3 separate regions of the Homo sapiens genome follow, and regions 1 and 2 are each linked to region 3. The links come from fine-mapping of genetic effects on gene expression. A gene starts in region 3. Each other region holds a variant in brackets. All regions are shown on one strand. Distances are from middle to middle.

The links. PIP is the estimated chance that this variant, and not a neighbour inherited with it, causes the effect.
Region 1: its variant is fine-mapped to the expression of RNF130 in sun-exposed skin (GTEx, PIP 0.91).
Region 2: its variant is fine-mapped to the expression of RNF130 in whole blood (INTERVAL, PIP above 0.99).

Annotation. Positions count from the first base shown.
Region 1 is chr5:179,983,230-179,985,729 of GRCh38, reverse strand. All of the region lies in intron 3 of RNF130 (ring finger protein 130), which reads left to right. Among named protein-coding and RNA genes, the nearest start is that of MIR340, 31 kb to the left of the region's middle. The variant C/T (reference allele first, on the strand shown) is at 1,253.
Region 2 is chr5:180,023,849-180,026,348 of GRCh38, reverse strand. The region is part of intron 2 of RNF130 (ring finger protein 130); the gene reads left to right. Among named protein-coding and RNA genes, the nearest start is that of MIR340, 9.7 kb to the right of the region's middle. The variant G/C (reference allele first, on the strand shown) is at 1,366.
Region 3 is chr5:180,070,457-180,073,250 of GRCh38, reverse strand. It overlaps RNF130 (ring finger protein 130), which reads left to right and starts at 1,492. Exons shown (of 9, transcript NM_018434.6): 1 at 1,492-1,795. The coding sequence starts at 1,549. RefSeq lists a silencer at 1,142-1,221 and an enhancer at 1,111-1,818.

The DNA.
Region 1 (2,500 bases), 87 kb after region 3:
CTTATTGATAAAGCTACTAAACACCAGCCTGGAAGGGAAATTATAAATACCATCTGCCGGTTTTTAATTGCAAAACAGGGAGGACCGAATAGTGGGAACCCTCTGAATTGGTTTTATCAGTGCTTTGTCCCTGAAATTAGGAAGTACCTTGCCAGGGTAGGACTGCCTTTTAACGTTTTTTTGATATTGGATAATGCCCCTGGCCACCCAGAACCCCATGAATTCAATACTGAAGGCTTCAGAGTGGCCTTCTTGACCCCAGACATGCCTCTAATTCAACCTCTAGAGCAGGGGGTCCTAAGGACCCTTACGGCTTAGTATGCACAGTATGCTATGTAAAGCATTTAATGCTGTAGAATAGAATCCAGATAAAACATCACAAAAGTCTGGAAAGATGGCACTGTTGAAGATGTCATTATTATTATAGGAAATGCCATGAAAGTCTAAACAAAAGATTTCTATGGGAGAAAACTGTGTCCAGACGTAGTACATGATTTCACAGGATTTATGATAGAGCCAGTCAAGGAAATCATGAAACAGATTGTGGATATGGCAAAAAAAAAAAAAAAAAAAAAAGTTAGGGGGTAAAGGGTTTCAAGATGAGGATGTTGAAGAAATTCAAGAGCAAATAGATACTACACCAGAGTAATTAAATTAATAGGAGATGACTTGATGGAAATGGGTGTTTCCATGTTGTTCAAGGGGCAGCTATGATAACAATATCAAACAAACTATAGGTTGAGTACCCTTTATCCAAAATGCTTTGGACCAGAAATTTTTCAGATTCTGGAATATTTGCATTATACTTACCGTTTGAGCATACCAAATCCAAAATTCTGAAATGCAAAATGCTCTAGTGAGCATTTCCATTGAGTTTCATGTTGGCACTGGAAATGTTTCATACTTAGGAGCATTTCAGATTTTAATTTCAAATGCTTAACTTATATGGAAAAGGCAGGAATACCTCCAATTTCATTGTATGGCACCAGTATCATTCCTAATACCAAAACTAGACAGAACTACTACAAAACAAAACTACAGACCAGGACCCCTCTTGAACATAGATGCACAAATTCTAAAAAATTTAGCAAATTATATTTAACAATATATATAAATTCATCATGACCAGGTGATGTTTACTCCAGGAATATAAGTTTCATTTAACATTCAAAAATTAATGTATTATTACCATATTAGCAGGCCAAAAAAGCTAAAACTGTATGATCTCAATAGATGGAGAAAAGATATTTGC[C/T]GAAGTCCAACATCGATTCCTGATTTTTAAACTTTCCTCAAACTATTAGGGCATCTATGAAAAACTGACAGCCACCATTATATTTAATGGTGAACGACTAAATTCTTTTTTCTAACATTAGGAACAAGAGAAGAATGTGTCCTCTGATCACTTCTGTTTCTGCGTTGTTCTTTAGATTCTAGCCAGCACAGTAAGTAAAAAGGAAAAGACGTAAAAGACATCCATTGTGGAAATGGAGAAGTAAGCTGTCTTCATTTACAGACAACATTATTTTCTGTAGAAATTTCGTGTAGAAGATATGTTGGAATCTATGAAAAAGACCAACAGTAGATTTAACAAGGTTCCATGATACAAGATCAATATGAAAGAATTAATTTTATTTCTATATATGAGTAATGAATAATTGAATTGGTTTTAAAAAATGCATTTTCATCAAGCAGATGGTGCACACCTGTAGTTCCAGCTACTTGTGAGGCTGAGGTAGGAAGATTATTTGAACCCAGGAGTTTGAGTCCAGCCTGGGCAACATAACAAGACCCTATCTCTAAGAAAGTTAAATTTTAAGAAATCCCATTTTCCATAGCATCAACAAATAGGAAATTCTTAACAATAAATCTGACAAAATATGCAATATGCCCTATGTAGTGAAAACTAACTATTGCTGAGGAAATTAATCAAGAACTAAGTAGGTGGAGAGACACATACACAGTGTTCAGTGGAAGACTTAATGTTGTTAAGATGCCAGTTCTCCCCAAGTGGATGTATACATTCAGCACAATCTCATTGTAAATCCCTGATGTCTTTTATCATAGAGATGGACAAACTGATCCTAAAGTTCATATGGGAATGCAAAATATCAAGAAAAACCACAAGGATGTTAGAATAGAAAGGAAATGTGGGATGGTTAACACCACCTAATTTCAGATCTATTACAAAGCCTCAGAAATCAGGACAGGATTGTATTTCCTTAATGGTAAACAAATAGATGCATGGTACAATAGTGTCCGCACATAGACCCACATATTTATGGACAACTGGTTTTTGACAGATTTAGAAAGGTAATTCTGTGGAGAATGGACAACCTTTTCAACAAATGATTCTAGAACAATTGTATGTCCATATGCAAAAAAAAAAAAAAAAAAAAGTTCATCTGTACCTGACAGAATACACAAAATGAGTCAGAACCCTAAATACAAAGTACGAAACTATAAAATTTCTAGAAGAGAAAACGGGGAAGTCTTTGTAACC
Region 2 (2,500 bases), 47 kb after region 3:
ACTTTACTGTTATTGTTTAATCATCTTAAGTTGTGTTAAATCACTGTCTGATAGAATTAGCTGTAGTTTTATCTGTATGTCTGTAAGAATTTTGTGGACATTCTTTCCATTGTTGAAAGGAAGATGAGGTAATTTAGATAAACATGTAACCAAATAATAATGTTGCTTTTTAATCTTTTTATCAATCAGCAATATCAGATGCTTCTTACTGGGTTTTTCTTTTTTTTTTTTGGATGGTTGAACAAAATTAGTTGAATGGCTCTTCACCTTTTTTCCATCATATTCTCTTAAAAACGTATTTAGCTCTATATTTATTATCTAGCATTGAATAGAAAAATGTCACACTTTGTAAAATATAGAAAATTCACTGTGAATACAAAAAATACTTTATGAAAACAAGTAAAAAGAAATCACAAACACATTGTAGAATACCTTTACGTATCAGTAATTTGGGCCACTTAACGTAAATCTATTTTCTTTATTCTAAATGCCTATCAAGAAAATGAGTAATATAAGTATACTATTGTTTTACCGTTTAAAGTTTTTTAGCTTCTAATTGAATATGGATTTAACTACCTCAGAAAAGATGGAGCTTGGAATTGAAGTGTACTGCTGTGGCAGGAAGTAAGGGTTTAAATTGCATTTATATTTTTGCCTGAGTTTGCACATGCTTCTACTGTATCTTCCATCTGGTTCATACATTTTTTTAAAAAAAATTCATAATTATCAAAATCTAAAACTGAAACACTTAAGCAGTAGCTTTAAAAAAATAAAAATAGCCTTTAATAAAATAAATGCAATGGTTCCATTTTAAAACTTCCATAAGCTCTTAATTTTCTTTTTTCTTTAAATCTGAAGTGGAACTGGAGAGTGCCTTCACCAGCAGATACATGAGACTGTCCTCTAGCCTTCCTTGCAGTCTCCGTGTCCCAAGTGGGTTGTTTGAAGTTGTCACTTGATTTACTTTTTTGTCTTTTCTGTGCTTCTCTTTCCTCACTGGCAGCAGAAGAGGAGGAAGGTAAAATCATATAAAGGATCTACATGGGTTTGAAATACTGTTTTAGAAATCAGTTTCCTAGGTTCCAGGACGGAGGATGTTCTTAACTGATAGAAGTTCATATGATGATGGACCTGACCTTGGAGTTAGGATCTCAAGAGTTGGTCTCACTGGCACAGCTGCTAAGGAGGATCATGCAGCCTTAGGCTATAGGTGTTAGAGGTCTGGGTGAGGATCTCTACCCCGCATTGATGCTTACAGTGCTTCTCGATTCAGGATGGAAGTGGAGGACAAGGCAGGGGTATTTTGGGACAGTCCTTTTGCTCTGCAGGTCTGTCTTTTGTATTACAGAGTGTTTCACCTCCCAG[G/C]TGTGGACCTGCTAAGTGCTGGTGGCACACCTCTGCGCCTGCGACAGCATGGAGACCCCTCCCACAGGGCTTCCAGACACCCCCAGGAGAGCTTTACTGCCCCTGTTGAGACCCACTGTCAGATGCTTAAGTTTGAGGAGCGTTTAGAGGAAGAATGAAAAGGGACCCCTCATTCGTGAAGGGAGTGGGAATGGCAAAACTCATGAAAAAACGGTAGGCTTTTATGTTTGCCTACATACTAACAGTTCTGCTGTTCTTTATTTCTTTCTGAATTTCCAAGTTTCCGTTTGGTGTCATTTCCCTTTTTTTAAATCATTTCATGCAGCACAGATCTCCTGATGATGAATTCTCTCAACATTTATTTATCCGAAAGTGTCTTTTTTTGGCCATCATTTTTCAAAGACAGGTATAAATTTTTGTGTTGACAGAATTTTCCTTTCAGCACTTCAAAGGTGTTGTTTGTTGTTTTCTGGCTTACGTTTTTTTCTGATGAGAAGTTGTTCCCTTTTATATAATGAGTCTTTAAAAAAAAACTTTACTTTTTAGAACTGTTTTACATTTATGGAAAAATTGGGAAGATAGTACAAAGAATGTCTGCAAACCCTGCACCCAGTTTCCTGTTAGGTACCATGTGACATGTTAATTTGTTGTACCACAGGGAACTAATGTTGGTACATAATTATTAACCAAAGTCTATTACTTTATTCATATTTCCTTAGTTTTCACCTAGTTTTTTTTCTGTTCTAGGATCCCACCCAGGACACCACATTACATTTAGTCATCATGATCCATTAGTTTTCTCTTGGCTGTGATACTTTTTTAGACTTTCCTTGTTTTTGATGACCTTGACAGCTTTGAGGACTGCTGGCCCAGCATGTTGTAGAATGTCCTTCAACTGGGACATGTTTGATAGTTTTCTTATAATTAGGCTAGGGATATGGGTTTTTGGGAGGAAGACCACAGGGATTTGTAAAGTACCATTAGCATGCATCCTGTCATACCAAGTTTATGTGCTATCAGTGTGAAGTATCACCAGTGATGTTGACTTTGGTCACCTGGCTGAGGTAGTGTCTGTCAGGTTCTCCACTGTGAAGTTAACTCTTTTCCCCCTGCCATATGATAACTTTTGACACCA
Region 3 (2,794 bases):
AGTTTTAGCCTGCACTGCATCCGTACCCTTTCCTGGAAACAGTGCCTCAAATTTCTTTTTGGGGAGCCACCTCTTTTCCGGATTTTCAGAACATTTGGTTGTGCAAAGCTGACTCCACCCACTTCCCGCAGTAGGAGACAGGAGACTCAACCCTGGCTGGTCAGAAGACGCCAAACTTTCCCCCTCCGCCTCCCCACAAAGATCCTGTAAGTTCCTGAATTCGGCTGCACTGCCCCATTCTTCCTTTTAGCTGATACTTTATAGCGATGTGTATCTTTTAAACGCCATGGAGAGAGAAAATGAGAGTCGTGTGTGTGTGCGCGCGCGCGCGTTTCGGAAGGTGGAGGGGGGGTTCCCACTGCAACCCTCTGGTCCGGGGGCCCCTGGAGTAGTTCACCTAGTCACTAGAGCAGGGGCTCCCCAACCGCCCGGCCGCGGACCTGTACCGGCCCAGGGCCTTCGAGGAACCAGTAAGCGAGCAGGAGGTGAGTGAGCATCACCGCCTGAGCTCCGCCTCCTGTCAGATCAGGGCGGCATTAGACTCTCATAGCAACGTGAACCCGGCTGTGAACTGCGCATGCTTGGGACCTAGGTTGCCCACTTCTTACGAGAATCTAACGCCTGATGATCTGAGGTGGAGCAGCCTCATCCGGAAACCACTTCAACTCCCTCAGTCCCTGGAAAAACTCTCTTCCTGGAAACCCGTCCCCCAGTGCCAAAATGGTTAGGGACGGCTACCCTAGAGGTCTTTCCCAACCACTCGTGTCCCTGCAGGTCCGGGCCAGAGACATCCCCCATCCATGATGTCAACCGCATGACGTGAATGTTAAATCTCATGACATTTAATTTTAAACATTTCTTTTAAAGTTATGGCTTTTTTTCCTTTGTAGTCTGTTCTCACACATTTCCATACGTCCTCGCAAATCTCCCGGGCTCCACGCCCTGCGGCTATCACGCCTGACAGAGAAACAACCAGCACCAGCGGCTGACCCGGCTGCCCGGGCCCTCGTGCAGGCGGGCGGGAGCGGACAGGCCCTGGCACGCATGCGCTCGGGGCGGGACTGCGCCTTAGGCCTGCGCGTTGCCGCTAGACCAGCGGGGGGGCGGGGCGGCGGCGGACACGCGCCTCAGGCGGCAGCCGCGCGAGAGGGACTTTGTGTTCCGCTGACCCTCCTCGGGGCGCTTCCTCCCGTGCCGCCCTTCCCCTCCCCCGCCGCGTCCTTGCGAGGCGCCTCCCATTCGGTGGGACCGACCCGGGGGGATGGAGGGGGCACGCTTCTACAACCCTCCTGGGACCCCGAAGAGACGCCCGCGTGCGACCTGAGACGCCGCCCTCGCCGAGGGCCCATGGGCGCGTCCCCACAGGCGGGCAGTGGACGTGAGGGCGGCGAGCGGCGGGGCCGCGGCGTCCAGGAGGGCCGCGCTCGGGCTCGGCCCCGCGCAGGCCGCGCGCGCGCGCTCCCGCCGCCGCCCGGGCCGCGCCCGCCCCGCCTCTAGGCGCCGGCCCCGGAGCCCGGTCCGCGAGCAGCGGCGGCTGCCGGAGGGACGATGAGCTGCGCGGGGCGGGCGGGCCCTGCCCGGCTCGCCGCGCTCGCCCTGCTGACCTGCAGCCTGTGGCCGGCACGGGCAGACAACGCGAGCCAGGAGTACTACACGGCGCTCATCAACGTGACGGTGCAGGAGCCCGGCCGCGGCGCCCCGCTCACGTTTCGCATCGACCGCGGGCGCTACGGGCTTGACTCCCCCAAGGCCGAGGTCCGCGGCCAGGTGCTGGCGCCGCTGCCCCTCCACGGAGGTGAGTGCCGGCCCGGGGGCGGCGGGCGGTGGTCGCTGCATCCCGCGTAGGCGGCGGGACTAGGGTTCCCGGCCCCGGCTCTGGCCCTGGCTCTCCCGCGCTGCCCGGCCGACAGCCCCAGCCAGGGTCGAGGCTTCCGTCGTGGACAGCCCGGCCTGCTCCCGTGGGAACCAGGCTCCAGGAGCGTGACTGGGTTTTTCCCTTCTTTTAAAAAAGACTTGGAACGGTCATCTTTGCGTTCAGGCAGCTCGTTTGCTGGAGGGCATTGAGCTAGGAGTTTGCAGGGACAGCGTAGACAAAGGAGGTGGTGCAAGAGCGCAAAACTACTTCATGGGGAGGACGTCTCAGCCTGTATTTTGGAAGCGGCAGGTTCCTCAAATCACGGACTTAAGGCTGCGCTAGATCTGGAAGGATGCGGCCCTTTTCTAATATAAAAACGTGCCGTTTTTCTTAAGTGGTAAATTGGGGGGGGGGTGTAAATGGAAAATGGACATCTTCCCTGTTGCTTTTGGCTCTTGTTCTTGCCCTAGTAGTTTTACTGTAATTTGACGCCTGAAAATGTCACATTATGAGGATCTGACACTAATCGGAACTACTAGCCAAGGCTTTTCAGGTCACGGGTGCCGACCAAAAGGGAAATAGGTAAAATTTTCAAGAATTGTCTTTGAAACCATTCGGCTTAATGTCATGTTTTCCTATGAACAAGGACTTTGTTTAGTTGATTATTTGGTGTAAACATGTATTTGTTTAAATTATTAGTCATGGTTTGAAAGAAACCTTTTGCACATCGTGGAATATGATTTTTTGGGTTTTGGCCCACGCTGAACTTTTGGGAGATATCTGCCATTATCCCCACCCTCATTGTCACCCTGAGAATGCTGAGAGGGGATTTTTCTTTTCTAAACTGCTGTTCATGTTAGGATGACCTAAAGTAGGCAACCTAAATAAAGTCATGATTTGCTTGTACACTCTTAAGATACTAACATATTATGCCCCTCT